7 linked regions of the Homo sapiens genome follow. The protein of the gene in region 5 purifies or fractionates together with the protein of the main gene of each other region. This does not show direct contact. Each region holds a gene or a part of one and is shown on either strand. Other genes may lie near its edges.

Region 1 (4,345 bases), on a different chromosome or scaffold from region 5:
AGCCAGGATGGTCTCCATCTCCTGACCTCGTGATCCACCCGCCTCGGCCTCCCAAAGTGCTGGGATTACAGGCGTGAGCCACCGCGCCTGGCCAAAAAATAGGACCTTCTTCTCAGAATTGTGAGAATTAACTGAGGTGGTTAAGATAATCACATAGAACGCTAAGAACAGTGCATGATGGCAGCTATTGCTGTTGGTTGTAATAATGGTAGTGTGTTTTAAATTCTGACTCACAAGACTGTCTCAGTTTCAGTGTGGTCTTACTGGGTTTTTTGTTGAGTCCCTAGGAAGGTAAGTGTCTCAAGGAGTAATGTTGCAGGCCTCAGTTTCTTTCTGCACATTGGGCCTCACAGACTGAAGGAGCCACTGATTGGGACTTGGAGAGCCCCAAGTCTGGCTCTGGAGCTGGACCCTACCCTGCTTGTTGTGTGGTTCCTAAGAGTCCTGCTCTGCTCTCAGATGGGGCTCTTTATGGAGTTTGGCCCTGAGGACATGCTGCTGGGCATGGATGAGGCTGAAGATGATGAGGACCTGGAGGCTGAGCTGCTGGCTCTCACAGGGGAAGCACAAACCACAGGCAAGAAGCCAGCACCCAAGGGGCAGGGTGAGTTTGGACACAGGGCTGGTCTTGGTGCTGGGACAAGATGGGCACAGGCTGGTGGTAGAGGGGTTCCCTTGCAGCTGGACGGAGCCAGCCAGATCCCCTGGTCCTTCCAATACCCATCTGCCGCACTCCCACCAAGAGGCGGCCTCGCCCTGCTTCCCCACCTTGTGTCATGGCCTGGGCTGGCCCCTCCCCATTGTGGACAAATGTGTTTCTCAGACTGACTCAGGTCCCCATCCTTAGCCCTAGCCACGGTATTGGTGTAGGGTAGGGGCCCAGTTAGCACAGACTGAACTGGGTACATAGGAAGTACATAGAAATTGTGTCCAGCGAGTTAAGTGGAATCTCCCTCCACAGCCCAGATGAGAACAGAGACTTCAGGCCTGGGAGGATCAGGAGGTCTAAATCGTCCTCTCTTTTCACCGGGAACCCTCAGAGAATCCCCCCACTCATCCCCCACCATCCTGTGTGTCCCTGAGTTGAGGATAATGGGAGGACCTAGGAAGGGGCTCACTGCTCCTGCCTTGGGGTGGCACAAGCCTAGGTTTGAATCCTAGCTCTGCCACTTAAGGATTGCAGTGATAGGAAAATTAATGTTGGAAGTTTCTCAGTTTATTCAATATATGAAAAGGGGATATTATCCATCTTGCAGATTTGTTTTGAAGCTCTGTTGGACTTTGAAAATCTTTACAGATGTGAAAGGTGTTGTTGGAGGTTGGAGAGAGTGGATGGCCATGTCTATGTCAGGCTACCGTAGGCAGAGGTGCAGAGAAAGGAGCAGCTTGTTGCTTGGTGGGGGGCCAAGGAAGGTTTCCCTGTTGAGGGTCTTTTGAACTGGGTCTTAAAGGAAGAGCAGTTTTCCAGGTGGGACTCTGCTGTGGGAGGGAAGAGGGATTTCTGCCTGGGTGGATCTACCAAGCCCCTCCTTTACTCATCCCTGAACTTATCTGAGTTGTGCTGACTTGTTGTGACCTTTTTCCCCCAGCCCCCCTGCCCATGGCCCACATCGAGAAGTTGGCGGCAGACTGTATGCGGGATGTGGAGGAGGAGGAGGAGGAGGAAGGGCTGGAGGAAGATGCAGAGCTGCTGGTGTGTCTGCCAGGCTGGTATCCCAGGGCTCTGAGGCAAGCTTGGGCCTGGTGGAGGAGAGGGCAGTGGAGAGGAGGCTGGGGGTGCCCCTGTATTCTCTGACTCTGAGTGAGTGCTTGCCCCTCCTGGCTGTACAGTGGGTGGCGTGTCTCTTTGACTTCTGGTCTAAGCTCTGCAGTTGGGGATTCTCAGATTTGGAGTAATTACTATTTTCAAGGCTATCCTCGGTCAGATTAAAGAAATGTTTTGGTGAAGGGGACTCAGGCACAGTGACTGACGTTAGGGAATATTGCTGAGAGAGAGGGTCCTTTACTCTCAGGTCCTGTTGTGGGTATGGTCTTGAGGCCCCCAAGCTCCTGGGCTGTGTTTTGTCTCCCTAGACGGAGCTGCAGGAGGTCTTAGGTGTGGACGAGGAGACTGAGCCCCTGGATGGTGATGAGGTAGCTGACCCAGGCGGCTCTGAGGAGGAGAACGGCCTAGAAGACACTGAACCTCCAGTGCAGACAGCCGTCCTGACAGCTTCAGCCCCAGCAGCTCAGGTGGGTTCTGGAGGAGGGCCCCTGTGCCTCTGATGCTCCTGTGCGCCCAGACGTAACACGTGTGTGGCCTGGCCTGCACAGCAAGGCTGCAGTCACCCTTTCCAGGACCCTCCCCCAGCAGCCGCCCCAAGCAGAAACTGAGCACAAGAAACTCCTCCGTGGCAGCCAGCCTCAAAGGCCTCTCTGTTCTCCTAGACTACCCCCCGGGAGCCATATCCTGGCTTCCACCAAGTGGGGCTCTGTATTTGCCTCTGCCATGGCCTCTGGCCTCTCCAGTGAGCCTTTGCTTCCTGCCTTAAGGCTTTTAGGCTCTTCTTTCTCCTGGAGTCCCAGAGCTCCATCTTCTAGGGCAGCTTCCGCAGAGGGAGAATGGTAGGCCTAGCAGGCCCTGGAGTGGCCAGGCCCTTAGCTGAATTGTTCATAGGCCGGAGCATCTCAGGGGCTACACGCTTTGCTGGAGGAACGGATTCACAACTACCGAGAGGCTGCGGCCAGTGCCAAGGAGGCAGGCGAAGCAGCCAAAGCCAGGCGCTGCGAGCGCGGCCTGAAGGTGAGTCGGGCTAGGCTGGGAGCAGGGCAGGGGAGGGGGCTGCATGAAAGGCGGCTGGTGGAGATCGCACCAGTGGAGGGGAGGTCACCCCACCAGACTTTGGGGGTTGGGGGGCCACCCCTGGCCTGTCTTGGAGCAGGGTCTGGGCTGAGATGGCTGGCTGGGTTTCTGGACCAGTTCTCTCCCTCAGACCTTGGAGTCGCAGCTAGCCTCTGTGAGGAGAGGCAGAAAGATCAATGAGGATGAGATCCCACCTCCAGTGGCCTTAGGAAAGCGGCCCCTGGCCCCCCAGGAACCAGCCAACAGGAGCCCTGAGACAGACCCTCCAGCTCCCCCTGCCTTGGAGTCAGGTATCTGCAGATGCCCAAATCCTGTTCTAGTTCCTGGGGTCATAGCCCACAGCGTGTGTCCCCAGCCTGCCACCACTGTTCATTACCATTGGTCACATCCTCCCCAGGACATCCTCAAGCCAGTGAAGTCCGTGGGCACCTTCTTCTGTGACCCTCATGTGCTCTCTGGGGACTGTTTGTTTCCTTATAGACAACCCCTCCCAACCTGAGACCAGCCTCCCTGGCATTTCTGCCCAGCCCGTTTCAGACTTAGACCCAGACCCGCGGGCCCTGCTGTCATCCCGACAGAGAGAGTACAAAGTGGCTGCCCTCAGTGCCAAGCGGGCTGGAGAGCTAGACCGTGCCCGAGAGCTCATGAGGATTGGGAAGGTATGGCATCTGGCTCAGGGCACCCACCCTCATTTTATAGATAGGGGAAACAGGCTCAGAAAGGGAGCTAGACTGAGATTGAGTGAGATTGGCCTAAGTGGGGGTTGTTTCAGCCCAGGCTCTTGGGGTCCCCTGTCTTTCACCCACACCTGCTTTTCCAACTTCTGCAGAGATTCGGTGCTGTCCTGGAGGCCCTGGAGAAGGGGCAGCCCGTGGATCTGAGTGCCATGCCCCCGGCACCTGAGGGTCAGTATGTATCTTCTCAGGCTGCGGTGGGGTTGGGGAGGAGTAGCAGGCCTGGGGCTGGCCAGGCCCTCCCACCTACACCTCTACTCTGGGTCCCCCAGATCTGAAGCCCCAGCAGGCTTCTCAGGCTCCCACAGCACCCTCAGTCATTCCCCCAGCCGTGGAGCGAGTGCAGCCAGTGATGGCCCCTGACGTCCCAGCAACCCCAGGTAGGGCAGGATGGTGGGACTGTGGCGTGGGGACCTGCAGGCATTGGAGGGCAGGCTGACCTGATGCCCACTTCTTCCTTCTTTCCTTCAAGTGGCCCCTACAGAGTCACAGACAGTGCTGGATGCCCTGCAGCAGAGGCTGAACAAGTACCGCGAGGCGGGCATCCAGGCCCGGAGTGGTGGGGACGAGCGCAAGGCTCGGATGCATGAGCGCATTGCCAAGGTGGGCCCGCGGCTATGCAGCCCCTGCCTGTGCTGGCCTCTTCCCTGGCTGGGTGCTCTGTCTCCCTGGTCCTCCGGCTAGTCCTTGTCTTTTCTGAACCATCATCTGTTTGTCTCTCTGGGGCTCTTGCTGCCTTAGGGATCTTTTTTTCTCCCAGGGCTGCTGT
Region 2 (4,345 bases), on a different chromosome or scaffold from region 5:
AGAATGCTTTATTTTAGAGAGTTTACTTTGATTCAGCAATAGCAGAGTGCTAATTTTCCTTGGGTATTAAAAAAATGAGAGAAGATAATTATTAGTGAATAGATAAAGTATTTTAGTTATTAGTGAGCAATTAAACCTTTTATTTTCTATTCTAGGCACTTGTCAGCTTTTCTGATTATCAGATCTTTCAGGAGCTCATCAAAGGAAAAGAGGATGATTCTTTCCTTAGGAACTCTGTTTCTCAGATGTTAAGGATTGTAATGGAAGAGGGTTGTTCGACACAAAAACAGGTCCTTAACTACCTAGGTGAATGCTTCAGAGTAAAACTCAATGTTCCTGACTGGTACCCAAATGAGCAAGCTGCGGAGTTCCTGTTTAAGTATGTGTGCTTTGTCTAAACTGTTTTTGGAGGGGCGGAGGGCTGTCAGTGGTTCTTTGTATTGGTTGCAGTTTGGGCGGGCGAGTCATTTGGGAATGAGAATGAATCTTGGGGTAGAATCCTGGTCCTTGCTAGCCGGGGGCTACCTTTGTTTTTGCGGCCCTCCTCACTTGTATTTTTTTAGTAGTCGTGTTTTATTTTATAGTACTTTTTAACTTTTATTTTGAAATAATTTCAGACTTCCAGAATAATGTCCAAATAGTACATTGGATTCTAATTGTGAACATTTCATTCATTTACATTTACTTTTTTACTTTCTGTGTACACAGATGTACATTTTTCTTTCTGTACAATCCCTGAAAGTTGCAGGGATTGTATCACTTTATTTCTCCAAAGCAAGGACTTTGTCTTATATAACCACTGTATAATTACTAAAGAAGCCAGCTCCATACTGGTGCTGTCCAGTGCATAGCCACCAGTCACATGATAAGCACTTCAAATGTGGCCAGTGTAGCTCAAAAACTGAATGCTTAATTTTATTTAATTAAAGTTAAGTAAGCATGAGTTGGGGATCTTGGTTAATAGAATATTAAGTAGTATTACCAACTGAATTGTTTTAAGCTTTTTTTTTTTTCTGTTTTCACAGCCAGTGCATCTGTATCCACTTGAAATCCAATACTGAAAAGTTTTATATGCTTTGTCTCATGACGCGAAAGCTCTTTGCTTTAGCCAAAGGAGAGTGCATGGAGGACAATCCTGATAGTTTGGTGAACCAGGAAGTCCTCACACCGGGTCAGCTCTTCCTTATGTTCCTGAAGGTAAATGCATGCTATGTCCACCCTTGGCCAGTGGTACCACTTGTGGAATGGCGTGACTTTGTCCAGCAGCACTGTTTTCTGCATGTTTATAGTTTCTAGTTTTGGCATTTTGTGTGGTCTCTTTTTTGTTTGTTCATTTAGCAGTAAGGGGATCAGAAATCCTGGCTTACACCAGGTTTGGAAATTTGCTTAATATTTTTATGTAAAGATCACATCAAATCTTGGTCACAGTGTTAATGATAAAAAGCAAATGGCCTGTATTTATACATATGGTTGATCCTCATTATTTGTAGATTCTGTATTTGTGAATTCACTCACTGGCTAAAATTTATTTGTAACCCTAATGTCAGTGCTCAGTGCTTTCATGATTATTCACATACATGAGCAGAGCAGTGAAGAATTTGGGTCTCCTGAGGCAAATGTTACAGCTGAGGCGGGGCAGGGCGATGCTCTGCTTTCCGGTTTCAGCTCATACTATAAAGAGGGTCCTTTTTGAGGTGCATTTGGTGCTATGTTTTTCACATTGTCGTGCTTCTTATTGGTGACTTTTTTGTTTTTTTTTGAGACAGGGTCTCAGCCTCAACCTCCCAGGCTCAAGCAATCCTCCCACCTCAGCCTCCTGAGCAGCTGGGACTATAGACATTCACCACCACACCCGGCTAATTTTTAATTTTTTTTGTAGAAACAGGGTCCCACTATGTTGTACAGGCTGGTCTCAAACTCCTGGGCTCATGTGATCCTCCTGTTTCAGCCTCCCAAAGTGATAGGATTGGAGACATGAGCCACTGAGCCTGGCCAGTTTTTGCTGTTTATAATGGTCCCCAAGCATAGCACTGAAGCGCTGTCTAGTGTTCAGTGTTAATGAATTAACAAGGTATGTTAAATAAGGTGCCTTTCAACAAAAGCTGACATTAAACAAGATTGTATATTGATCCGTTGACCAGAATGTTATGACCAGAGACTTGCAGGAACCCAGCCCTGTATTTTTCCCCAGGAGTAGTGGTTTTATATGTGTTAATTCAGTGTTCATTAGAACATAGCTACTGTGAGTAGTGAAATTTGACTGTAGATGTATATAGAGAGAAAGTTGGCATGGCACAAAAATGATTTCATAAGAATATTGATTCAGTGGCATTTTATATTTTGCATCTTATCCTCAAAAAGATGTAATCTAAGAGTTAATATATTTTTAGTAGAGGTGGGGTTTCACCATTTCAGCCAGGCTGGTCTCGAACTCCTGACCTCAGGTGATCCACCTGCCTCAGCCTCCCAAAGTGCTGGGATTACAGGTGTGAGCCACTGTGCCTGGCTTCTAATTTATTTTATTTTATTTTGAGACAGAGTCTTGCTCTGTCTCCCAGGCTGGAGTGCAGTGCTACGATCTCAGCTCACTGCAACCTCCACCTCCCGGGTTCAAACAATTCTCCTGCCTCAGCCTCCCGGGTATCTAGGATTACAGGCGCGTGCCACCATGCCCGGCGAATTTTTTTATTTTTAGTAGAGACGGGATTTCACCATGTTGGCCAGGCTGGTCTCGAACTCCTGACCTCAAGTGAGCCACCCACCTTGGCCTCCCAAAGTGCTAGGATTACAGGCGTGAGCTACCACACCCGGCCTTCTAATTTCTTATCTAGGTAGTAATTCTTATTTACATTCTTCCCGAAAGGTAATAATCTTTGTTTCTGTTTGCTCTGTCCATAAAATTAGATTGAAAAATTTCAGCAGCCTACAATTTTCCTGACAAAAATTGAAAGCAGGCAGCGTAAGTTTTCTCTTATTAATTTAATGTTATTAAATTAACCTTTCAAGTAAAGGTTAATTTACATTTCCCATCTACTTAAAGTGAAGCATGGTGGGCTCATTGTATTCCACACTTATAAATGTGTCTTTATTCCACATCAATTCCTAATTAGGAAAAAAAAGAAAAGAAAAAGAAATGAGACCAGGAGTACAGTGGCTCATGCCTGTAATCCCAGCACTTTGGGAGGCTGAGGCAGAAGGGTAACTTGAGCCCAAGGAGTTTGAGACCAGCCTGGACAGCACAGAGAGATCGCTACAGAAATAATAAAAACTATTAGCAGTGGCTGGGTGTGGTGGCTCACGCCTATAATCCCAGCACTTTGAGATGCCAAGGTGGGTGGATCTTCTGATCTCAGGAGTTCAAGACTAGCCTGGGCAACATTGCAAAACCCTGTCTCTACAAAAAATATAAAAATTAGCTGGGCATGCTGGCATGCTGCAGCAATTCCAGCTACTCAGGAGGCTGAGGTAGGAGAGTTGCATGAGCCTGGGAGACGGAGGTTACAGTGAGTTGAGATCACGCCACTGCACTCCAGCCTGGGCGACAGAGCAAGACCCTGTCTCCAAAAAAAACCTGTTAGCTGGGCATGGTGGTACATGACTGTGGTCCCAGCCACTTGGGAGGCTGAGGTGGGATCCCTGAGCCCAGGAGGTCAAGGCTGCAATAAGGGGTGATTTTGCCACTGCACTCTAGCCTGGGCAAAAGAGCAAGACCTTATCTCAAAAAGAAAAAAGAAAAAAACACCTGGTGCGGTGGCTCACACCTGTAATCCCAGCACTTTGGGAGGCCGGGGTGGGAGGATCACTTGAGCCCAGGAGTTTGAGATCAATCTGGGCAAACAGCCCAGAGACAAAACTTCGTCTCTACAAATAATTTTAAAAAAATTTAGCCAGGCCTGGTGGGCCACACCTGTGGTCCCAGCTACTCAGCAGGCTGAGGTAAGAGGATTGCCTGAGCCCAGGCGGCGGAGGATGCAGTGTGCTGTGATCACGCCAGTGCACTCCAGCCTAAGTGACAGAGCAAGACCCTGTCTCAACAGAAAAAAGAAATGAGTCTTCTGTAGCAAGGCGTTACTAAGGTGACCTGTGTCAGCAACAAGAGAAACCAAGGGAAAATTGGGGCTTTTTCAGAGAATTCATTGCCGAGTATCTGATTTCCTTACCAGCTACGTTAAAGCTTTTAAACCTTTGAGTTTGGAGCATAAAAACAATCTTCAGAAGATACATAACCATGACATAAGATGAATTATAGACTGTTAAAAATTCACATTGTATTTACATTGAAATAAGCAATATAAAATTGAAAAATAGCAACCATATTTTCTGTATTATTGTAGATTAACCATAA
Region 3 (4,345 bases), on a different chromosome or scaffold from region 5:
CTCTGCACTTAGGGTTGGCTGTCTTCGCAAAGCCTGGTCAGTCGGGGGGAGAGGGGGAGCCTCCTGTTTCTTAGTGAGAAGCTGAGGCCGGGGAGGCCACATGACTTAGCTAAGGTCATAGATCTCAAGAATGTTCAAGTCAGGGTCTGGAGAGTGACCCTAACCCCATGGGTCAGTGGCATGATGCCAGGAGGGACAGAGCCGGGCCCCACAGGAAAGCTGTGCTGCAGGTGTTGGGCGATGGGGACAGGTTAGCCCCTGGAGGTGCTGACAGCTCGAGAGAGAGATGGAAAGACGGAGAGACAGGGCTGAAAACTCAGTGTCTGTAAAAAAAAGACCGGGCACAGTGGCTCACGCCTGTAATCCCAGCACGTTGGGAGACTGAGGCAAGAGGATCGCTTGAAGCCAGGAGTTTGAGACCAGCCTGAGCAATACAGCGAGACCCGTCTCTACAAAGAGTAAAATAAAAATAAATTACTGGGCGTGGGGGTGCACGCCTGTGGTCGCAGCTGCTCCGGTGGCTGAGGCGAGAGCATCACCTGAGCCCAGAGCATCACCTGAGCCCAGGAGTTCGTGGTCACGGTGAGCTGTGGTCACCGCTGTACTCCAGCCTGGGTGACAGAGCAAGACCCTGTTTCTAAAAATAAAGAAAAAAACACCACGTGTGGTCCGGAGAAAACAAATGCCACGTGTGGTCCAGAGAAAACAAATGCCACGTGTGGCCCGGAGAAAACAATGCCACGTGTGGTCTGGAGAAGGCAGTGCCACGTGTGGTCTGGAGAAGGCGATGCCACATGTCTGGATCCTGTGAATCGAGGATATGTTTCATGTTGCAGGATAGACGTGCTTGGGGAAGTCTTTGCTGAGTCTTGCTAATGATGTGTCTGTGTCTCTCTGCAGACTGTGAGCTGCTTGTCCCCATCCTGCGGCCGTCCTGGGGACACAGAGCCCTCCGTGGTGCCCGGGGATTGGATTGGAGCCAGGACCTCACTTCCTCCTCTGCCCCTGCCCCTGCCCCTCCCAGCACCTGGCCCACACCCTGCAGCCCGCCCCATGGTCTGGCCCTGGGTGGCGATGGCGTCCAGGTGGGGTCCCCTCATTGGCCTGGCTCCGTGCTGCCTCTGGCTCCTGGGGGCAGTCCTTCTGATGGACGCGTCTGCACGGCCTGCCAACCACTCGTCCACTCGAGAGAGAGTAGCCAACAGGGAGGAGAATGAGATCCTGCCCCCAGACCACCTGAACGGGGTGAAGCTGGAGATGGACGGGCACCTCAATCGCGGCTTCCACCAGGAGGTCTTCCTAGGCAAGGACCTGGGTGGCTTTGATGAGGACGCGGAGCCGCGGCGGAGCCGGAGGAAGCTGATGGTCATCTTTTCCAAGTAGGTGCCGCCATGTGCCCAGACTGGGGGGCTGTCCGCGTGCGCTCGCCTGTGTGTTCCTATCCTGGCTTTGCGCGGTGGGGGGCGCCGGGCCCTGTGTCGGGACCTGCCGGGCTGGGAAGACGTGCCGGTGATGAGCGCCACTTCCAGCCTGCTGTGTTTGCGCGGAGGCCTGCGCTGGCAGCCCAGAGCCGCTCCTTGAATGCCCTGGGTCCGCCGGGGGCTCAGAGGGCCAGAGTGGGCCTGTGTGGCCGTCCCTAGGACAGCCTGGAGGAGCCCACGCGGCACTGCAGTGGTCAGCGTCCTCCATGCTGAGGGGCAGACGCCGGCCACGGGCAGCCTCCGCAGGCTGCAGCCCCAGTTGGACGAGGCCTGGCTGAGGAGTGAGGGGCTGCCACAGGTGGCTGGAGAGCTGGTACAGGGTGCTCTGGGCTCCTCCTGACACGCCCTCTACCCTGTGTGTTTGGGGTCCCTGTCACACACGGGCCGCGTATCACACGCAGGCTGGGGGTGTGTGGGGTTGGCTTGTTTTGCTGGCCTGGTCGGGAGCAGAGCTGTGCTGTCAGTGGCCCATCCTTGGCCGTCACTGCCCCCACCCTGCTGAGTCCCGAGACCCTCTTGCTGCCTCTGTGCCTAGTGCCGAGCTTTCTCCCCCGACCCCATCCCTGAGTCTCGAGAGCCTGTTGTGAGGGGTCCAAGATGGGTCAACCTGACCACTCACCCACAAGGAGCCAGGTCCTGCACGGGCGCCTTACTCCTTACGGCACGGCCGGGGTGCCCTGCGGTGTGGCCCTGGAACCTACTTGCACTCAGCGCTGGCCTCACCCCTGGAGGCAGAGCAGGGTCAGGGCGTGCCCGTGAGTCCCCCAGGCCAGCCAGGGTGCCGGGCAGGGAGCCGAGGTGCAGGTGAGAGAACACCCTGGGCCTCCTGGGACCTGCGAGACCTGGGCACAAGGAGGCAGCCCCCGCCGCAGGGCCTGGCCACGAGCTCACCTTCCCGCAGGGCCTGGCCACGAGCTCGCCTTCCCGCAGGGCCTGGCCACGAGCTCGCCTTCCCGCCGGGCCTGGCCACGAGCTCGCCTTCCCGCCGGGCCTGGCCACGAGCTCGCCTTCCCGCCGGGCCTGGCCACGAGCTCGCCTTCCCGCAGGGCCTGGCCACGAGCTCGCCTTCCCGCCGGGCCTGGTGCTCCAGGACCAGTGCAGAGGGGCAGGTGGCAAAGCTGGTGAGCAAGGGGATTGGGCAGGGCTGGGGTCCTGGGGTGCAGGAGCAGGTAGGAAAGGTGTGAGGACTGGTCTGGCTGTGCCACGGCCCTTGGGCTGAGGGCCAGGCGGGAGGGCCCTGAGGATCCAGGCTTTCGGGCGGAGCACAGGTGAGCTGGTGGGACGGAGGCACGGTGCCAGCTGGAGGACCTGGGCACCAGGTGTGGTGTCCCCTTGCACCTCTCCTCAGATGGTACGGTTCGGGGGTCCTTGCGTGGCCTGAGTTCACTTGGTGGTGAGCTGACCAACCCACGAAGAGGCTGCTGGTGCCCCTGGGGCCTGTCAGGTTCACCACCCCTGAGCTCACGAAGGCCTGGCTCGCGGCATCACAGGGGAAGGGTCCCCGTCCCTGCTCAGCCGGTGCTGGGGGTGGGCTGCACGCCTGGGCGAGGGGAGTTGAGGCTTCTGCTCGGTGCGTCTCCAGCTGGACCGGGGTTTCTTTTTGGTGCCTGTAACGAAACCCCAAGCTGTCTCGTTTGAGGAGGTGGGCATGGGGAGTGGGAAGTAACAGCAGGTCTCCGGGTCTCCCTGACTCCTGCGCCGAGCGGCGACAGCGGCCGCTGTGGGTGTTTAGACTTCCCTTCCCACACGCGGGTCCCTTCTCGCCCTTCTCCTGCGTAGGGCCCCGTCCCTCCAGGACCCACGTTCACTCAGCTGTCCTGTCTCCTCTGTCTCCTCTGGGCTGGAACGGTGTCTCAGACTCTCCCGTTTTTGTGAGGACGTAACAGTTCTGAGAAGGGCTGGGTAGGAGGTTTTAGGCTGTCCCTCAGTTTGGGCTTGTGGGATGTGTTTTCTCCTGACCGTACAGGGTTGAGGGTTTCTGGAAAGAGCCCCCAGAGGGGAGGTGCCATGTTTCCTCCTGACCGTACAGGGTTGAGGGTTTCTGGAAAGAGCATCCAGAGGGGAGGTGCCCTGTCCTAGGGGCTTTTGAGCTTCACTTCCTTCCCGCTTCCCTGCACCACGAGATGCTCCAGGCTTTCCTTCCCGCTTCCTGGCACGGTGAGATGCTCTGGGCTCGCCTCCGTGCCACCTGCCCCAGTGCAATAGCTGCCGCCTTTCCAGGAAGCCCTGTCTCCCGTGGCTGGAGCTGGAAGCCAGGGTCTGGGCACTGGGCGTCTTGCCCTTGTTCTCTCAGGAGCCAGAACTTGATAACATGCGTGTGTGCACCAGCCCAGTCACATCTGTGTTCTGCCAGCCCTGTTCACGTGTGTGTGCTGTGTACACGTGGGTACCGGCCTGTGCACTTGCGTGTGTGCGTGCCAGCTCCATGTACGTGCACCGCCCTGCAGCCGTGTCTTCAGGCACCTGAGTTTGGATGAGTGACTCCTTGCCGACATCTTGACTGGAATCCTGCGCCATGTGGTTTCTTTCCACCTTTTTGCTTTTTGCTCTGCCTCGTGTGTGTCTGTGTCTGTGGAGTGTGTAGAGCGTGTGGAGTGTGTGGCCCGTGTCTGTGGCATGTGGAGTGTGTGGCCCGTGTCTGTGGCGTGTGGAGCGTGTGGCCTGTGTCTGTGGCGCGTGTGGAGCGTGACCGGAGCATTCGAGGATGCACGTGTCCACGTGAGACCCACCAGGTGCCCCACCTGCCACATGGCCACCCGGGTGGCCCCGTCCCCAGCCGGTGTGTTTTGGGGACTGTGGAGCTGAGGGTGCCTCCCAGGCCCGTCCACCTCTGGGCTGCTGCGGCTGCTGAGGGAGGGGCGCGT
Region 4 (4,345 bases), on a different chromosome or scaffold from region 5:
ATTGGACATGATAAGCAACATTCAGTAAATATTTGTTGATTGAAAAGAGGCTAATACAGTAAAACTATAGAGGGAACTTTAAATCCTACAGCTAATAGGCTGATTTTGAAAGTGAAACATAAAATGTTTATATAAATTAAGCTTGTTTCAGGATGCAAAAAAAAAAAACCTCAAGAAAAAAAGCAGAAGTTTTTAAAGAAAATAGCAAAAGTCAAAGAAATAAATTACAGAACATAGAAATGGTGGTGTTGATGTTTATATAATACATCCAGAAAGAAGTAGAAACTTAAACCTAACTTTAGAATTAGCTTTATAAAGCTACACATACAAATGCTATAATATGTGAGATTGATTGGGAAAACCAGGAATTGAATTTTTTTTAATAATTCTTGCTTATCTATCTCTCTCTAGTTATTGTGACCAACTGAAAGTCTCAGAGAGTACCCACGTGCTCCAGCCCTTCCTCCCCAGCATCCTTGATGGCTTAATTCACCTAGCAGCCCAGTTCAGCTCAGAGGTCCTCAACCTGGTGATGGAGACCCTGTGCATCGTTTGTACAGTAGACCCCGAATTCACAGCAAGCATGGAAAGCAAAATCTGCCCCTTCACCATCGCCATTTTCCTAAAGTACAGTAATGGTATGCTGCCAGGGAGGATGTATTATGAGGGGCACCAAAGAAAAGGTGGTGGCTGGTGAATTTAAATGAAAGATTCCCTAGGTCTGGTCTTAGCTATGAAGCTATGGTTTTAACATCGTAAGCAAAGAATCTGGCTTTCAATTAGCAAAAAATAGAATTGTGCTGTAAATGTAGCAGCATTAAAAAATAGAGTACCTATTTCTGTAACACTTACTCTCTAGTAAGGACTTAGGGATAAAGATAATAAATAAAGGGCTAATAAGCAAGAGACATAATTCAGAACTTTGATGATAGAATAGGAAATTGGGCAAATGAAAAGCCTCCTAAAAGAAAAGGGCTAGGACTATAATTTAGAAAAGGAGATACTAAAGAAAGATATATGGAAAAGTTTATAAACAAAGGTATTCACTAGATATTTTTTACAGTAGTAAAAATTTGGAAATTATAAAAAGACATTAGTTAATTATATCCATAAAATGAAATACTGTGCAGCCATTAAAAATCAAGCTTAAAAGGAATATCTGAAACCATGGGAAAGAGCTTACATTATAATAAATGAAAAGATACTTTTCCCAAAAAATCCATAGAATATGATCCCAAGTTTTGATTTTTCTTTTAGAAAAGCATGTATGTATAGATAGGTATGTTTTAAAAAAAAATACATCAAAATGTTGAGTGTTTAGGTAGTGGAATTACAGGTGTTTTCATTATTACTTTTCTGCATTTTAAGTTTTTTTTTTCCTGTAGTGAATGTATTTATTAATACCTTATTACTAGTAAAATATTAAGGATTCTTTTTTTAAAGAGAGAGCTCCAATATTGAAGCTCAGAAAGATGTACAGGATAAGGATTATTTATATAATGTGATATACTGAACATGTTATTTGATAGCTTTTTCACTGAAAAATGTGTACTGAGGAGCTTTCCACATTGTGTTCTTGGATATATCTCATTCTTTTCAGCCATTACTAATGTTCCATAAAATGGGTATATCATAATTTACCCATTCTGTTAATGGACATCTAGGGTATTCCCAATTTTTTTCTATTACAAACAATGCTGCAGTGATCTTTTAAGGTATACTTTAATGCACATTGCCTATATTTTTCCATACTAAATAGAGGAGGATGTTTTGTTCTATAGATAAAGAAGATTGAGCTAAAGTTCCCTTTCTTCATAAGGCTCTGCTTTTTAGGAGTTTTGCCTTTTGCCCCAGAAGTAGCTTTGAGAGTTCTTCATGTCTACCGTGGCTACCCCATAGGAGATATGTATGATTTCTCTCATGCATCAAAGCCAGTGTTTTGGCAATTTTTGCAGCTTTCATGTCTTCTTAAAGTATCAGTTGGGCTTTTTTTTTTTTTTTAAGCATTTGGTTTTATAACGTAGGTTTCACAAGAATAAAGACTTTAAAGATTTTTCTCTAGAAAAAGCCACATTTTGTTTTATGAGTAGCTGTTAATGACTAGTCCCTACTTTAATGAAGCCATACAAAGTGTACCTCTTGCAGATTTAGGATCTCTCCTGTTCTTTCAGGTTATTCATGTGGCCCCACTAGGTCCCGGGTATGTGATAAGTAATCAATGCAGAAGTTGTTAACTTAGGTTAGGGCCAAACAACAGGCATCATTAAGCGAGAAGCAGATGCAGACCATCAGGCAGGGGGATTCCGTGTTGCCTTATCCACTTCAGATCCCGTCGTCGCCTCACTGGCTCAGGACATCTTCAAGGAGCTGTCCCAGATTGAAGCCTGTCAGGGCCCAATGCAAATGAGGCTGATTCCCACTCTGGTCAGCATAATGCAGGCCCCAGCAGACAAGATTCCTGCAGGGCTTTGTGCGGTAAGTGGCCGTGTGTGTGTGTGTGTGTGTGTGAGAGAGATCTACAAGTGCCACCCACAGATGCATCTAGCTGACAAGAACCTAATAGCGTTAGAGATTCATGGGGTGATTTTGCTGAGCTCTTTTGCCTGCAAGGACAGTGGGTGATTCTCTGAAGCTTTAAGAAAATGGCTTGGCTTGGCGCGGTGGCTCATGCCTATAATTGCAGCACTTTGGGAGGCCGAGGTGGGTGGATCACAAGGTCAGGAGTTCGAGACCAGCCTGGCCAATGTGGTGAAACCCTATCTCTACTAAAAATACAAAAATTAGCCGGGCATGGTGGCAGGCATCTGCAGTACCAGCTACTCAAGAGGCTGAGGCAGGAGAATCACTTGAACCCAGGAGGCAGAGGTTGCAGTGAGTGGAGATCGTGCCACTGCACTCCAGCCTGGGTGACAGAGCGAGACTGCCTCAAAAAGAAAGAAAGAAAGAAAATGGCTCTTCTTGTTCCAGAGGTACCCTCAGTGAATTGAACAGAGTGCCACCTTTACACAGTGCCACTAAGTATGTCACCTGGTTATCCAATCCACTACCATGTACTACTGCCCACCCCTATGGCTAATCAATTAGTAAGCTATTATGAGAAGGCTGAGAGTACTACCCATTTAATTATTCCTTTTATTTTGGAAACTTGCCTTTCATTAATAAGCTTTCTCTGGGTTGCTATGTAATACCCATCCAGTAAGGATCTTGGTTGTTGGGCAACCCCCACCCCAGAGGCAATTCTGACTTTTCTTTTTCTTCTCTCTTTCAGACAGCCATTGATATCCTGACAACAGTAGTACGAAATACAAAGCCTCCCCTTTCCCAGCTTCTCATCTGCCAAGCTTTCCCTGCTGTGGCACAGTGTACCCTTCACACAGATGACAATGCCACCATGCAGGTATCTGAGACATGGAGAGTAGAAGAGGGAAGATAGCTCCCCAGCCATGGGCTTATACTATGCTGAGAAATCTGACATGGTTTTATGCTTTTGAAATACGGAATTCTCAACTCCATATTTACTTAGCAGATTCAGGAAGGGTTCAGTCTGCAAAAGCCAAGCATTTCTGGTGCTTTGGAGCATGTTACAGTTTTTAAAAATATGGATACCAAGCACCCTGCCCATCTGTATTGGGTATTGCTACTGTGAAAGAGGTTACAGACATCTAGACTTGGGGCCATAAGAAAGTCTTTCTGCATATTTCTTCTAGTAATAAAGTCAGCAGAGTGATGGGCCTCTAGAGAGGGGAGACATGCCTGAATATTTTTTCTCTTTTTGTTTCTTGGGTGAATTGGTTACCTTTTCAGGTGTCTGCTACTGTGATTGATTAGAAAGGTTATAGGAACTTGCCAGTGAATATTGATCAGCTTGGAAATCCCTAGGCAACTAGTGGTTTGTGTAAGACCTATATAAAGACCTACAGTATCCCCAGTTATTCCAAGATTGTAAGCATATTTTTTTAGTACCAGAGGTAGACCTTTATGATTAAAATTCATTTTGCTTGGCCATTGTCCCTTGTGATTAAAAAAATATATATACACATTTGTGAGATAGCTGATTAGGTAAAGGGGGAATTATGTAATGCACGTCTATGTCTGTAACAGTAAATGTCTTAACTCCAGTGGTATGAGCCCACCACAAACATTATAGACTCACCGCTTTTATGAGGCATAGGCCTCTGGGAACATTTGTTTATACAGACTGAGGGCCTTCTGGCATCTGTCCCTCGATTACTAATCTTGCTTGCCACCCCTGTCTCCCCAGAATGGCGGAGAGTGCTTGCGGGCCTATGTGTCAGTGACCCTGGAACAAGTAGCCCAGTGGCATGATGAGCAGGGCCACAATGGA
Region 5 (4,345 bases):
AATGAAGAAGAGGAATACGACTTAATGACCATCTGCTTTGTGTTAGACACTGTCCAATGCATTTTTCTATTAGGTAAAATGTGTAGAAAGAATTAAGATTTCCACTTAGCAGATTAAGAAACTGAGGTCCAAAGTAGTAAGTGGCAGAGTGAGAATTCAAACCCTGGAATATCCATCTCTGAAGCCCCTATTCTACCTACTACATTATCCTGGGAAGGAAATAAATTGAAAGCAGAGTTCCCAGTTCCAAAAATCCCATTAGGGTAATGCCTTTTTTAGAGAAACAATCAAATATTTAAAGATAATTTTGCTTGCTGTTGATACTATTACTAAAATGATGTTTCCAATTGACTTTTAGATCCCAATTGTAGAGTCAGAAATAAAGAAAGAAGCTGGTGAATTAAAACCTGAAGAAGAAATAACTGTAGGGCCAGTTCAGAAATTGGTTACTGAAATGGGTACCTATGCAACTCAGAGTGCCCTTAGCAGTTCTAGACCCACCAAGAAAGAGGAAGACAGGTAATTTATGGCACATATACCCTGCCAGCTGTACTACTTTTATTATTACTCTTGTATGTAAGACAGTCAAATGATTTCTTTCCTCTTGCTTTTGCAACCAAAATGAAAATCTTTGCCATTTAAGGTACTTGAGAAGCGGAGGATGTTTAAGTTCTTCCCCCTAGGAATTGTATTGATGGTTTTAATTCTCTGTCCCTTCCAGTGTTTTTATGGAAATAACTGTTCTGTTTAAACTCAAATTATTTTTACTCAGAAAATGCTAAGTGGGGGTAACTGAAGATATTTGAGTTTTGTTGTTTATTAGCATCTGAAAACATTTTGAAGATTTTTCAATTTCTAAATGATGGAATAAAATTGTGCATTTTTCTATTAAGTAAATTTTAATGGTGAAGATGGTGAAATCTTTGCCTAAAATTTTACTGAATACCCACTAAGTGCTAGGCATTGTGCTAAGTAGTTTGTCTCATATAGTCTTGACAATAAGCCTTTGAGATAGAATATATTATCTCCATTTTATGGAAGAAGAATTTGAGGCTTACCCAGTAAATAAACAGGTAAGCTGGAATTCGGAGGTACTTCATTAGCTGCAATTACGTATGCCCCTAATTAAATATTGTATCTTTCCATATTCTGATGGCTTTTGTGTCATTCAAAGATAAGTTTTCTTTTTTTTTTTTTTTTTTTTTTTTTTGACACAGAGTCTTGCTCTGTCGGCCACGCTAGAGTGCAGTGGCGCGATCATGGCTCACTGCAACCTGTCTCCTGGGCTCAAGCAGTTCTCCTGCCTCAATCTCCTGAGTAGCTGGGATTACAGGTTTGTGCCACCATGCCCAGCTAATTTTTGTATTTTTAGTAGAGACGGGGTTTCACCATGTTGGCCAGGCTGTCCTCGAACTCCTGACCTCAGGTAATCCGCCCGCCTTGGCCTCCCAAAGTGCTGGGATTACAGGTGTGAGCCACTGCACCTGGCCAAAGATAAGTTTTAAAGTCATGTATTATTTTTCTTTTTCCTTCTTTCTTCTGGGAGCTAAGGAGTTAGTTAGCTAAGGTATCCTTATCACTGAAGGATGGTAATAAGAGTGTTTAATAGGCCTATATCATTCATTTATACAGAAGCTGCATGCTGCTTAGCAAGTTGGTGGGTTTGATTTTCCTTGGTTGCTTTGCAGACCTCCCTTGAGAGGATTCCTTCTGGATGGAGATTTCTTTGTTGCTGCCTCCCTTGCCACAACTCTGACCAAGATTGCATTGCGCTATGTAGCTTTGGTTCAGGAGAAGAAAAAGCAAAATGTAAGTTCATTTATTTTACATTTAACCAACAATTAAACATTGAGTGCCTACTATATGCATTGAACAGTGAGGGACTCAAAAATTAATGCTAAGTTTCTGTCATGAAAGAGTTTATGATTTAATAGCAGAAGTGGACACAGTAATATATTACTCTAAAATTGATAAAGTATCTTCCTCTTCTGTTTGGGCTTTAAAAAAATGAAAATTGACAAAGTAATACAATAACAATGTCATGTGATTATTCCAGTGGAAGAGAAAGGATTTATGAAGTCACCTCAGTTTGCTGGGATTAGTTCAGGACCAGTGAAGGAAATGTCCTTCTCTCCAGCATCTGCATCCATTCGGTCATTGTCTGTTTTATCCCAGAATGTCTCTTAAGTTATTCTCATCTGTAGTTCATGCCTGCTTTGTAGCTTCTGACCGTTCTAACCAAACACCCATTTACAATGGTATGCAGTTGGTCCTCCATATTCACAGCTTCTGCACCTGCAGATTCAACCAACTATGGATTGAAAATATCTTTTTTAAAAAATGATAAACAGTAAAAAATAATAGAAAGTTGAAAACAATGCAGTGTAACAATTATTTACATAGCATTTACAGGCATACTTCATTTTATTGTACTTTGCACATATTGCTTTTTTTTTTTTTTTTAAACAAATGAAGGTTTGTGGGAACCCTGAGTTGAGCAAGTCTGTTAGCATCATTTTTCCAAATAAGCATATGCTCACTTCATATCTCTGTGTTACATTTTGGTAATTCTCACAATATTTCAAACTTTTTCATTATTATTACATCTGTTATGGTGATCTGTTATCAGTGATCTTTAATGTTACTATCATAGTTGTTTTGGGATGCCAGGAACCATTCCCATATAAAATAGTAAACGTAATCAATAATTGTTGTGTGTGTTCCGGCTGTTACCCCGTCTCTTTCCTCCTTGGGCCTCCCTATTCTATTCCCTGAGATACCACAATATTGAAATTAGGCCGGTTAATAATCCTACAGTGGCTTCTAAGTGAAGGGAAGAGTCACATGTCTTTCACTTTAAATCAAAAGTGAGAAATAATTAAACTTAGTAAGGAATGCATGTCAAAAGCTGAGCTAAGCCAAAAGCTAGGCTGCTTTTGCCAAGTAGGTAGCCAAGTTATGCATGCAAAGGAAATGCTCTTAAAGGAAATTAAAAGTGCTACTCCAGTAAACACATGAATGATAAGAAAGTGAAACATTTGGCAGGCGTGGTGACTCACACCAGCACTTTGGGAGGCCCGAGACAGGCGGATCACGAGGTCAGGAGTTCGAGACCAGCCTGGCCAACATGGTGAAACCCTGTCTCTACTAAAAATACAAAAATTAGCCAGGTGTGGTGGCAGGCGCCTGTACTCCCAGCTACTTGGGAGGCTGAGGCAGGAGAATTGTTTGAACATGGGAGGCAGAGGTTGCAGTGAGCTGACATCACACCACTGCACTCCAGCCTGGGAGACAGAACAAGACTCCGTCTCGAGGAAAAAAAAGAAGAAGAAAGAAAGCGAAATAGCTTTATTGCTGATAGAAAGTTTGAGTGGTCTGGATAGAAGATAAAACCAGCCACAAGATTCCCTTAAGCCAAAAGCCTAATCCAGACTAAGACCTTAACTCTCTTCAATTCCATGAAGGCTGAGAGAGGTTAGGAAGCTTCAGAAGAAGAGTTTGAAGCTAGCAGAGGTTGATTCATGAGGTTTAAGGAAATAAGCCCGTCTTCATAATGTAAAAGTTTGACATGAAGTAGCAAGTCCTAATGGAGAAGCTGTGGCAAGTTATCTGGAAGATCTAGCCAAGATCATTGGTGAAGGTGACCACACTAAACAACAGATTTTCAGTGTAGACTAAACAACCTTATATTGGAAGAAGATGCCATCTAGGACTTTGGTAGCTAGAGAGAAGTCGGTGCCTGGCTTCAAAGCTTCAAAGGATAGGCTGACTCTTTTGGTAAGGGCTAATACAACCAGTAACTTAAGTTGAAGCCATTGCTCATTTCCCATTTTGAAAATCCTAGGGCTCTTAAGAATTGTGCTTAATCAACTCTGTCTGTGCTCTGTCAGTGGAACAACAAAGCCTGGATGTCAGCACATCCTCTTTACGGGATGGCTTACTAAGTATTTTAAGCTCACCATTGAGACCTACTGCTCAGAAATAAAAGACTCCTTTTAAAATATTACTGTTCATTGACAATTTAGCTGGTCACCCAAGAGCTCTGATGGAGATGTAGAAAGAAATGAATGTTTTCATGCCTGCTAAGACAACATCCATTATGCTGCCACTGATCAAGTAGTTTCAACTCTTATTATTTAAGAAACAGAATCCATAGAACATTTGTGGTAGTAGCGCAGAGTTGGTTACAATGTCCTACCACAGCAATTTCTGACATTCAAATTGGGCCTGTAGCAATGGGACTCCTTTTGATTCCTTCAGCTTTCGTATTATGTTGGTTATCTATACAGCAGGTTTCTAAATTGAAACACTTTCACTCACATCACTCATATTTCCTTCGTTTTTG
Region 6 (4,345 bases), on a different chromosome or scaffold from region 5:
ATTAATGTGTGTTTTTTTTTTTTTTTTTTGAGACGGCGTCTTGCTCTGTTGCCAGGCTGCAACCTCTGCCTCCCGGGTTCAAGTGATTCTCCCGCCTCAGCCTCCTGAGTAGCTGGGACCACAGGCGTGCACCACCATGCCCAGTTAATTTTTGTATTTTTGATAGAGACGGGGTTTCACCATGTTGGCCAGGATGGTCTCGATCTCTTGACCTCGTGATCCACCCGCCTTAGCCTCCCAAAGTGCTGGGATTACAGGCGTGAGCCACTGCGCCTGGCCTAATATGGAGATCTTTTAAAGGAGCACTTGCTGTTACTAAAAGCCTAAGAAAAAGTGTTTATTTTTTTCCTTTTAAAGGAAACGAGGTATCAGTTACTTCAGCTTCGACCTGCGCAGAGAGCATCATGGATTGGTTATGCTATTGCTTACCATTTATTAGAAGATTATGAAATGGCAGCAAAGATTTTAGAAGAATTTAGGAAAACACAACAGGTAATAACTAGAAGCCATTTTACTAAGTCTGATCCTAAGTATAACTAAAAAAATAATGTGCATAGTCTGGCTTACTTTTAATTTTGAAATAGTTTCAAACTTATAGAAAAGTTGCAGGAATAGCACAAAGAACTCTACATAGGGGTTCATTCATACTAAACTAATTGTTAATATTTGGTGCATTTACTTTAAAATTTGTGTATCTATTTATCTATTTTAATTTTCTTCCTTAAATGTTTGAGAGTAATTGCAAGACATCATGCTCCTTTACCCCTAAATGCTTTAGTGTGTATTTTCTAAAAATAACTGTATAGTTTTCAGTTCTCTAGATAGTATTATAGGGATAGATTATAAAAATTAGGAAATTTAACACTGATAGACTGTTATCTAATTAATCCCCAGCCCATATTCAGAATTTACTAATTGTCCTAGTTATAGCCTTTCTAGCAATTTGATTTCATTGCAGGATCCAATTAAGAATCATACCTTACATTTAGTTATCATTTCTCTTCAGCCTCTTTTAATCTGAAACAGTTTTGAAAACTTCCTTTGTATTTTATGACATAGACATTTCTGAAGAAGGCTGTGCTTTTGTAGGATGTCCCTCAATTTGGATTTTTCTGATGGTTCCTCATTCTTAGATAGAGTTTTATAATTTTGGCAGGAAACCATATAAATGATATTGGGTCCTTCTGCGTTCATTACATCAAGAGGCACATGCCATCAGTTCGTTCCATTTGATTACATGGTGAAAGTTGTATTTGCAGTTGTAAACGTATTTTTCTCTCTTTGTGTTTAATATGCAGTTTGAGACTGAATAGCCTATTGCTCATCAAACTTTCACCATCTAGTTTTAGCATTCATTGATTATGATTCTTGCCTGAATCAGTATTACTATGATAGTCGCAAAATGGTGATTCTCTTAACTCTAGTCATTCCTTGTAGGTTTATTATTTGGCATTCTACTCCTGAGTAAGAGCTTTCCCTTCTTCCCCATATTTATTGTGTGTAAGGACTTATGGATTATTATTTTATTCAACCTGTTATATCCTAATATTGTCATTATTTACTCAGTTGCTCTGTAGATACTTAAGAATTTTTTAAAAATTAGTTTTATCAACCGGATGTTATCCTTTGACTTCTTACATGTTTTTGAGTATTGTGAACAATTTTCTGATATGAAAATAAAATTCTTACTGTCAGTATTCCTTATATCCATATACAGACATCCCCTGACAAGGTGGATTATGAATATAGTGAACTACTCTTATATCAGAATCAAGTTCTTCGGGAAGCAGGTCTCTATAGAGAAGCTTTGGAACATCTTTGTACCTATGAAAAGCAGATTTGTGATAAACTTGCTGTAGAAGAAACCAAAGGTATTTTTAAAAGAATTGTCATTTATTCTAATATTGAAATATGACAGAGCAAGGCTGAAAAATCTAGTTGCTGCTGACAGTTTCATATAATTCAGCTTTTTGATGATAGGAAATCTATTTCTTACTCGTGTACTTTTAATAGTTTATGATGTGGGAAAATGTACATTTAAACAATATTGTAGATAGAGGAGAAAGTTGATTGTGAACAATGAAAAGTAGTTGAATGAAATGACTCATAACATTCTTTAAATAAAGTATCTTTGTATTAAAAATATTATGGAATTTGATCAAAACACAAGAGACAATTAGTTTTATAAGACAGAGGATGACATTTCTTAGAAACAGTTTATTAATAAACTATAGTGTATGTAGTATGTGCCAGATTTATTGCTAATAATATATATTGATGAATCAGTCTTTACTAAAATACATATAGGATATTTCTGAGAGTCTTTATGGTTAATCTGAATGTCTTCGATGACACAGAAAGAATATGAGTTCTGGAAGAAAGGGAGACCAGAGATTTGGGTTCATAATATGTAGATTGTGATAGGAGGGGTAGATCCCACTCAGCAGAGGGCTGAGAAAAATGAGTCTTAACAGTTTTAGAAGTTGAGGGCGTGATTATAGAAAATAAAAGAAGAATAACAAGTAATGAAAGGACAAGTGATTTTTTAAAAAATTACCTTCTGAAATGCTGCTTTGTCCTTGCTAGTCTAGGGAACTGAAGTTTGCTGGTTTCACATTCCCTTGGCTCACCTTGAGGTTGAACACAAAAAGTATAATATACATCCATGTGCATAATAGGTATAGCCATTGTTTGCCAGATAAACTTTTGTCGGAGGATAATGGTACTGATAAGAAAAACTGGAATTCTAAGACTTCTGGAGGGAGCTCTCTTGTGAACTGCAGATCCAAGACAACCTTCTTTCATTTGAAGTAGTCATTCTTTAGTAGTCTGTTAATCACAAAGGAAGGAAATTTCTGACTTGCTGGAAAGATGGCAAGTCTGGAAAAAACTTGTCTCATTGGCCACTAAATAGCTCTGTGAACAGAGTCAAGGCTTGGGCCTCAAGTTTCTTTATGGAAATAAATGACAAATTATTTCATTTGATCCCTTTGATAACTTCATTAATGAGGAAGAATGGCAGATAGGTAAAGTTAGATAAAGGACTCAGAGCTGACCAGTGGATTTTTAGCAATTTAGAAGTCATTGGTGACCTTAACAAAAGCACTTTCTGAGCTTCTGGAAGAAGGATGGTAAAAGCCCAAACATCAAGTCTATTTAAAAGAGACTGAGGCCGGGCGCGGTGGCTCAACCCTGTAATCCCAGCACTTTGGGAGGCCGAGGCAGGTGGATCACGAGGTCAGGAGATCGAGACCATCCTGGCTAATCTGGTGAAACCTCGTCTCTACTAAAAATACAGAAAAATTAGCCAGGCGTGGTGGCAGGCGCCTGTAGTCCCAGCTACTCGGGAGGCTGAGGCAGGAGAACGGCGTGAACCTGGGAGGCGGAGCTTGCAGTGAGCTGAGATTGTGCCACTGCACTCCAGGCTGGGCAACAGAGCAAGACTCCGTATCAAAAAAAAAAGGGAGTGGGAGTAGAGGAACTGAAGATAAGAAGCACACATGACTCAGTTGAGGAGTTTTGCTGTAAATGAAACAAATGGGGTGCCGGTAGGTGAAATGGGATGCAGGCTCAAAAAGTTTTTGTTTGTTTGTTTGTTTTTCATAGCGTGTATTTGTGCTGACTGGGGAGTGATCCAATAGAGATAGAATATTTGATACAGTAGAGAGAATGTCATGTGGTAGATTGATGTCATGTGAAGGATTAATTTAGGTAAGAACATGAATAGTTCACATCAACAAGTAGTGGTGGTGTGTAAGTGGCGGGCAAGTAAATGTGTAGATGTAATGCATATTTTGGAGTTTCCTCTAATTGCTTCCGTTTTCTACATGAAATAAGAAATAAGGCTATCAGCTCATTCCACAAAATATGTATTGAATACCTACTTTGAGTTAGGTAATGGGACAGGGTGTATAAAGAGAATAGAAGGGAAGTGAGGGTAGAATCAATCTTTGGAAATTCTAGCAATCTTTAGAAATTCAAGGCAGTGTTGCTGGTAGGGATAGTTGGTGGGAGAAGATAAGATGGTCAAGATCACTCAGGAACTTCTTAGAGTGGATCAATGGGCACAGTTAGGCAAAAAAAAAATTTTTTTTTTTTTGAGATGGAGTTTCACTCTTGTTTCTCAGGCTGGAGTGCAGTGGCGCGATCTTGGCTCGCCGCAACCTCCACCTCCCGGGTTCAAGCGATTCTGCCTCAGCCTCCCGAGTAGTGGGATTATAGGCATGTGCCACCATGCCTGGCTAATTTTGTATTTTCAGTAGACATAGGCTTTCTCCATATTGGTCAGGCTGGTCTTGATCTTCTGACCCCCAAAGTGCTGGGATTATAGGCGTGAGCCACCGCA
Region 7 (3,500 bases), on a different chromosome or scaffold from region 5:
CAGCTAATTTTGTATTTTTGGTAGAGACTGGGGTTTCTCCATGTTGGTCAGGCAGGTCTTCAACTCCTGACCTCAGGTGATCTGACCACCTTGGCCTCCCAAAGTGCCGGGATTACAGGTGTGAGCCACCACGCCAGCCAACCATTGTCTTTAAAAGAGCTGTGCCCCCTCCAGATGTAAGCCCCTCCAGTTCTGAGCTCTATGTCTTACACTTAGGCTCTTAGTACGCATTTGAAAGAATGAATTAGGTTTCCTTAAGTAAATAATTTCCCTTTAGAGTTTGGTGCTGAAGTAGAAGTAATTAGAAGTAATTAACTCTCAACCATTTCGTTCAATTGATATTGAGCTCTTTCTTTGTACCTGGAGCTAAGAATGTACAGTAGTGAACATGATAGCCCCAGCCCGAAAGGAGCTTATGATCTACTGGAGAAAACACAGAAGGAAATAGATTTTAGGACAAGGCAGAGAAGGACCGTGATAAGCTGGTGCCATTGGAGTATACCTAGTGGGCATTAGTCCAGTCTTGGGAGGTTGGGGAGCCCTCTGGGGGGAGATGTCTAAGCAGAGATAAGGCTGAAGAAAGGGTAGTATGGGAGCAGCACAGCAGAGGAAACAATGTATAAAAGCTTGGAGGACAGAGAGGGACAGTGCTTTCAGGGAACCTCAGGTGAGTAAAGCACAGTGGCTGGAGCATTTGAGAGGGTGGGGAGTGCTGAGAGAATGGGGCTAGAGAGAGAGAGGCTCAGGCCAGATAATGGGCCTTGGATGCCATGCTAGGGTCTTTCTACCTCATTTTGGGGTTGTGAAGACCCCTTAAAGGCAAGAATTCTCTGATCACAGAGTGGTGAGAACCTTGGAGGGAGCAAGACTGGCAGAATGTGAGAGGCTGGTGGCCTGGATGATGAACTAGGGGATGGAGAGAACTGGAGCATCGAGGTATATTTAGGAGGGGGAAGTGATAAGACTGGAGGATTGATTAGATGTTACACTAAGGAGAGGATTCAAGATTGACCCCCACTGCATTTGCCTCAGGCAGCTGGGGGGTGGTGTTGCCATTTATTGAGGGAATACGGGAGGCAGAGCAGATTGGGGGTTAGTTAGATTTCATTTGTTGCAAGTGTTAGAAGCCAACTCAAGCTAGTTTAAATGTTTTTTTTTTTTCTTCTTTTTTAAATAAATAGAGACGTTGTCTCGCTACATTGCCCAGGCTGGTCTTGAACTCTTGAGCTCAAGCAGCCCTCCTGCCTTGGCCTCTCAAAGTACTGGGATTACAGATGTGAGCCACCACGCCTAGCCTTAAATGGTAATGCATCATAAATATACTGTGGTACCTCAGAAGGGACCTGCATCAGGAACCTGAGATCTGTTGGGGATCTCTACACAGCTGTTCTTTGCACATCTGATTCATTTTTTAAAAAATTTGTTTTATTTTTAAATTTTAATATATTTATTTATTTATTTGTTTTGAGACCAGATTATGGGACTGGTCAATTTTTGTATTTTTAGTAGAGATGGGGTTTCACCATGTTGCCAAGGCTGGTCTCAAACTCCTGGGCTCAACTGATCTGCCTGCCTCAGCCTCCCAAAGTGCTGGGATTACAGGCGTGAGCCACTGCTTCTGGCCTTGATTCATTATTTCTCTGCGGATTGGCTTCTTAACCTTTGTTGTAGGTGAAGGATGGCCACCCACACCTTGGTTTTGATTTCTTTCCTTTTAGAGATCAGTCCAGATTGAACTATGATGGTAGTCTCAATTCTGGTTTTCCTGGAGTGAGAATTTGGTTGATTTGATTTGGGTCATATTATCCAATCATCTGCAGTCAGCGTAGTACCAAATTCTCCCTCCAGGCGTATTCCAAAATTAAATTCAGTCAGCTTTTGATTTTTGTGGGGAATTAGGAATGATCCATAGAATGGATAATCGTCCTTTCTTTTTCCCTTCTTGCTGTGACCCAAGCTACACTGGTTGATTTCATAGGCTCAGGGGAGGCAGACTTCTCCTAGCATATGAGAAACCAAAATCAGAAGAATAAGTCTGCTGGAAGAGTTTTCTATCATTTATAAAGTGTATTCCAAAGCACACAGAAATTTCAGGGTTATCTGGATTAGTATTTACCACCACTTTCAGATTGTTTACCAAGATAGTAGAAAATTTGAAGCTCTGAGACAGATTTCACTAATTTTTGTCACTTCTAGTAACCAAATAAGAATTGCCTGCAGTGGATTTAGCTAAGTTTTAGCCCTAGCTAAAGGGAAGGGAGAGTGTGCTTATCTGTGTGGGGCACCTGCTTAATGTCTGAACTGTGCTGGGCACTTACTTTAGTTTATAAAGAAGAAAACAGGAGTTTAGAGAACAGAAGTGATTTGCCTGAAAACACAGTTTGTGAGTAGCTGCAATTGTATTTGAACCTGGATGAGATTTGTTGTGTTTATCGGGGTGTCTATGGAAAACATGGAAGAGCCTGGGGCAGCCAGAAAGCAGAAAGCAATACAAATGAGGAGTGCAAAAATGGGAGTGAAAACGGTATCCTAGCAGCAGGTACTTGAGACTTAAGAGTGAAAAAGGGTTGATGAATGTAGCAAATGGGGATAACAGTAGTAATGATTAGGGTTTGGAGCCCCGGGGTGTGGTGCTTAGGGGGCGTCTGTTCTTGGGTTCTTATTTCCTCCTTGGCTTTTAGTCCTGGAAGCTAGTGATTGCTTTTTGGAGAGGGAGTGTCTCAGAGCCAGAGCCTGGGAAGATAAGAGAGAGGCCGCCGTGGGGAATGAGGCTCTGATAGATTAGCAGATCCCACTGGACCTAGCTTAATGGAAAATGTCTGTTTCCGTTCTTGCTCAGCAGTCTCGGGGTATGTGTGTCTTGTCACTCTTGGCAGCTGGAACAGAGAGGACAGTGGTGGCCATTGAGGCTCAGGTTCTCGTGAGGCCAAGAAGAAATACAATACTTTCTTATTAACAGACTCAACAGTTTGTGCCTCAAAACCAATGTGTGCCTATTGTGGCCCGGGACACTCTCAGCCCTGGATGCTCCGGTGTTTCTAGCATTGTCCTTCTTTCTTGATCTAATGGCACAGACCCACTCAGATGGCCATTTGCTGGTCTTTAGCACTCTCTAGAAGTTGACTCCACAACCTCCATTTAATATACTCTTGAGGAAAACAGTTTGGCAGTTCCTCAAAAGGTTAAACAAACAGAATGATGATCCACCAATTTCACTTCTAGGTGAAAAGAATCAAAAGTGGAGATTCAAACAGATACTTGTACACCAGTGTTCATAGTAGCAATACTCCCAGTAGCCAAAGGTGGCAACAACCCAAGTGTTCATCCACAAATGAATAGGTAAAATGTGGTATGTGCACACGTTAGGATATTATTCAACCTGAAAAAGGAATGAAATTCCGATACGTGCTACAACATGGATAGACCTTGAAGACATTATGCTAAGTAAAGTAAGCCAGTCACAAAAGGACAAATATTTTATAGTTGCGCTTATATGAGGT

The links.
Region 1: the proteins of COPB1 (region 5) and CC2D1B fractionate together in Homo sapiens (co-fractionation; one large-scale study listed by BioGRID). This does not show direct contact.
Region 2: the proteins of COPB1 (region 5) and POLR1B fractionate together in Homo sapiens (co-fractionation; one large-scale study listed by BioGRID). This does not show direct contact.
Region 3: the proteins of COPB1 (region 5) and SDF4 fractionate together in Homo sapiens (co-fractionation; one large-scale study listed by BioGRID). This does not show direct contact.
Region 4: the proteins of COPB1 (region 5) and IPO9 fractionate together in Homo sapiens (co-fractionation; one large-scale study listed by BioGRID). This does not show direct contact.
Region 6: the proteins of COPB1 (region 5) and NAA15 fractionate together in Homo sapiens (co-fractionation; one large-scale study listed by BioGRID). This does not show direct contact.
Region 7: the proteins of COPB1 (region 5) and PRCC fractionate together in Homo sapiens (co-fractionation; one large-scale study listed by BioGRID). This does not show direct contact.

The regions. Positions count from the first base shown.
Region 1 is NC_000001.11:52,358,861-52,363,205, reverse strand, and holds part of CC2D1B (coiled-coil and C2 domain-containing protein 1B), read left to right. Parts: intron 1-459; coding exon 460-604; intron 605-1,589; coding exon 1,590-1,693; intron 1,694-2,073; coding exon 2,074-2,232; intron 2,233-2,656; coding exon 2,657-2,782; intron 2,783-2,972; coding exon 2,973-3,132; intron 3,133-3,322; coding exon 3,323-3,501; intron 3,502-3,671; coding exon 3,672-3,747; intron 3,748-3,848; coding exon 3,849-3,956; intron 3,957-4,048; coding exon 4,049-4,179; intron 4,180-4,345. UniProt on the Homo sapiens protein: Transcription factor that binds specifically to the DRE (dual repressor element) and represses HTR1A gene transcription in neuronal cells.
Region 2 is NC_000002.12:112,551,620-112,555,964, forward strand, and holds part of POLR1B (DNA-directed RNA polymerase I subunit RPA2), read left to right. Parts: intron 1-155; coding exon 156-379; intron 380-1,025; coding exon 1,026-1,197; intron 1,198-1,919; exon of another isoform or gene 1,920-2,071; intron 2,072-2,904; exon of another isoform or gene 2,905-2,960; intron 2,961-4,345. UniProt on the Homo sapiens protein: Catalytic core component of RNA polymerase I (Pol I), a DNA-dependent RNA polymerase which synthesizes ribosomal RNA precursors using the four ribonucleoside triphosphates as substrates.
Region 3 is NC_000001.11:1,225,502-1,229,846, reverse strand, and holds part of SDF4 (45 kDa calcium-binding protein isoform 2 precursor), read left to right. Parts: intron 1-900; 5' UTR 901-1,053; coding exon of another isoform or gene 1,054-1,074; coding exon 1,075-1,379; intron 1,380-4,345. UniProt on the Homo sapiens protein: May regulate calcium-dependent activities in the endoplasmic reticulum lumen or post-ER compartment. Isoform 5 may be involved in the exocytosis of zymogens by pancreatic acini.
Region 4 is NC_000001.11:201,866,322-201,870,666, forward strand, and holds part of IPO9 (importin-9), read left to right. Parts: intron 1-411; coding exon 412-638; intron 639-2,326; coding exon 2,327-2,475; intron 2,476-3,268; coding exon 3,269-3,397; intron 3,398-4,261; coding exon 4,262-4,345. UniProt on the Homo sapiens protein: Nuclear transport receptor that mediates nuclear import of proteins, such as histones, proteasome and actin. Serves as receptor for nuclear localization signals (NLS) in cargo substrates.
Region 5 is NC_000011.10:14,471,959-14,476,303, reverse strand, and holds part of COPB1 (coatomer subunit beta), read left to right. Parts: intron 1-358; coding exon 359-519; intron 520-1,688; coding exon 1,689-1,809; intron 1,810-4,345. UniProt on the Homo sapiens protein: The coatomer is a cytosolic protein complex that binds to dilysine motifs and reversibly associates with Golgi non-clathrin-coated vesicles, which further mediate biosynthetic protein transport from the ER, via the Golgi up to the trans Golgi network.
Region 6 is NC_000004.12:139,342,469-139,346,813, forward strand, and holds part of NAA15 (N-alpha-acetyltransferase 15, NatA auxiliary subunit), read left to right. Parts: intron 1-357; coding exon 358-492; intron 493-1,717; coding exon 1,718-1,871; intron 1,872-4,345. UniProt on the Homo sapiens protein: Auxillary subunit of N-terminal acetyltransferase complexes which display alpha (N-terminal) acetyltransferase (NAT) activity. The NAT activity may be important for vascular, hematopoietic and neuronal growth and development.
Region 7 is NC_000001.11:156,770,535-156,774,034, forward strand, and holds part of PRCC (proline-rich protein PRCC), read left to right. Parts: intron 1-3,500. UniProt on the Homo sapiens protein: May regulate cell cycle progression through interaction with MAD2L2.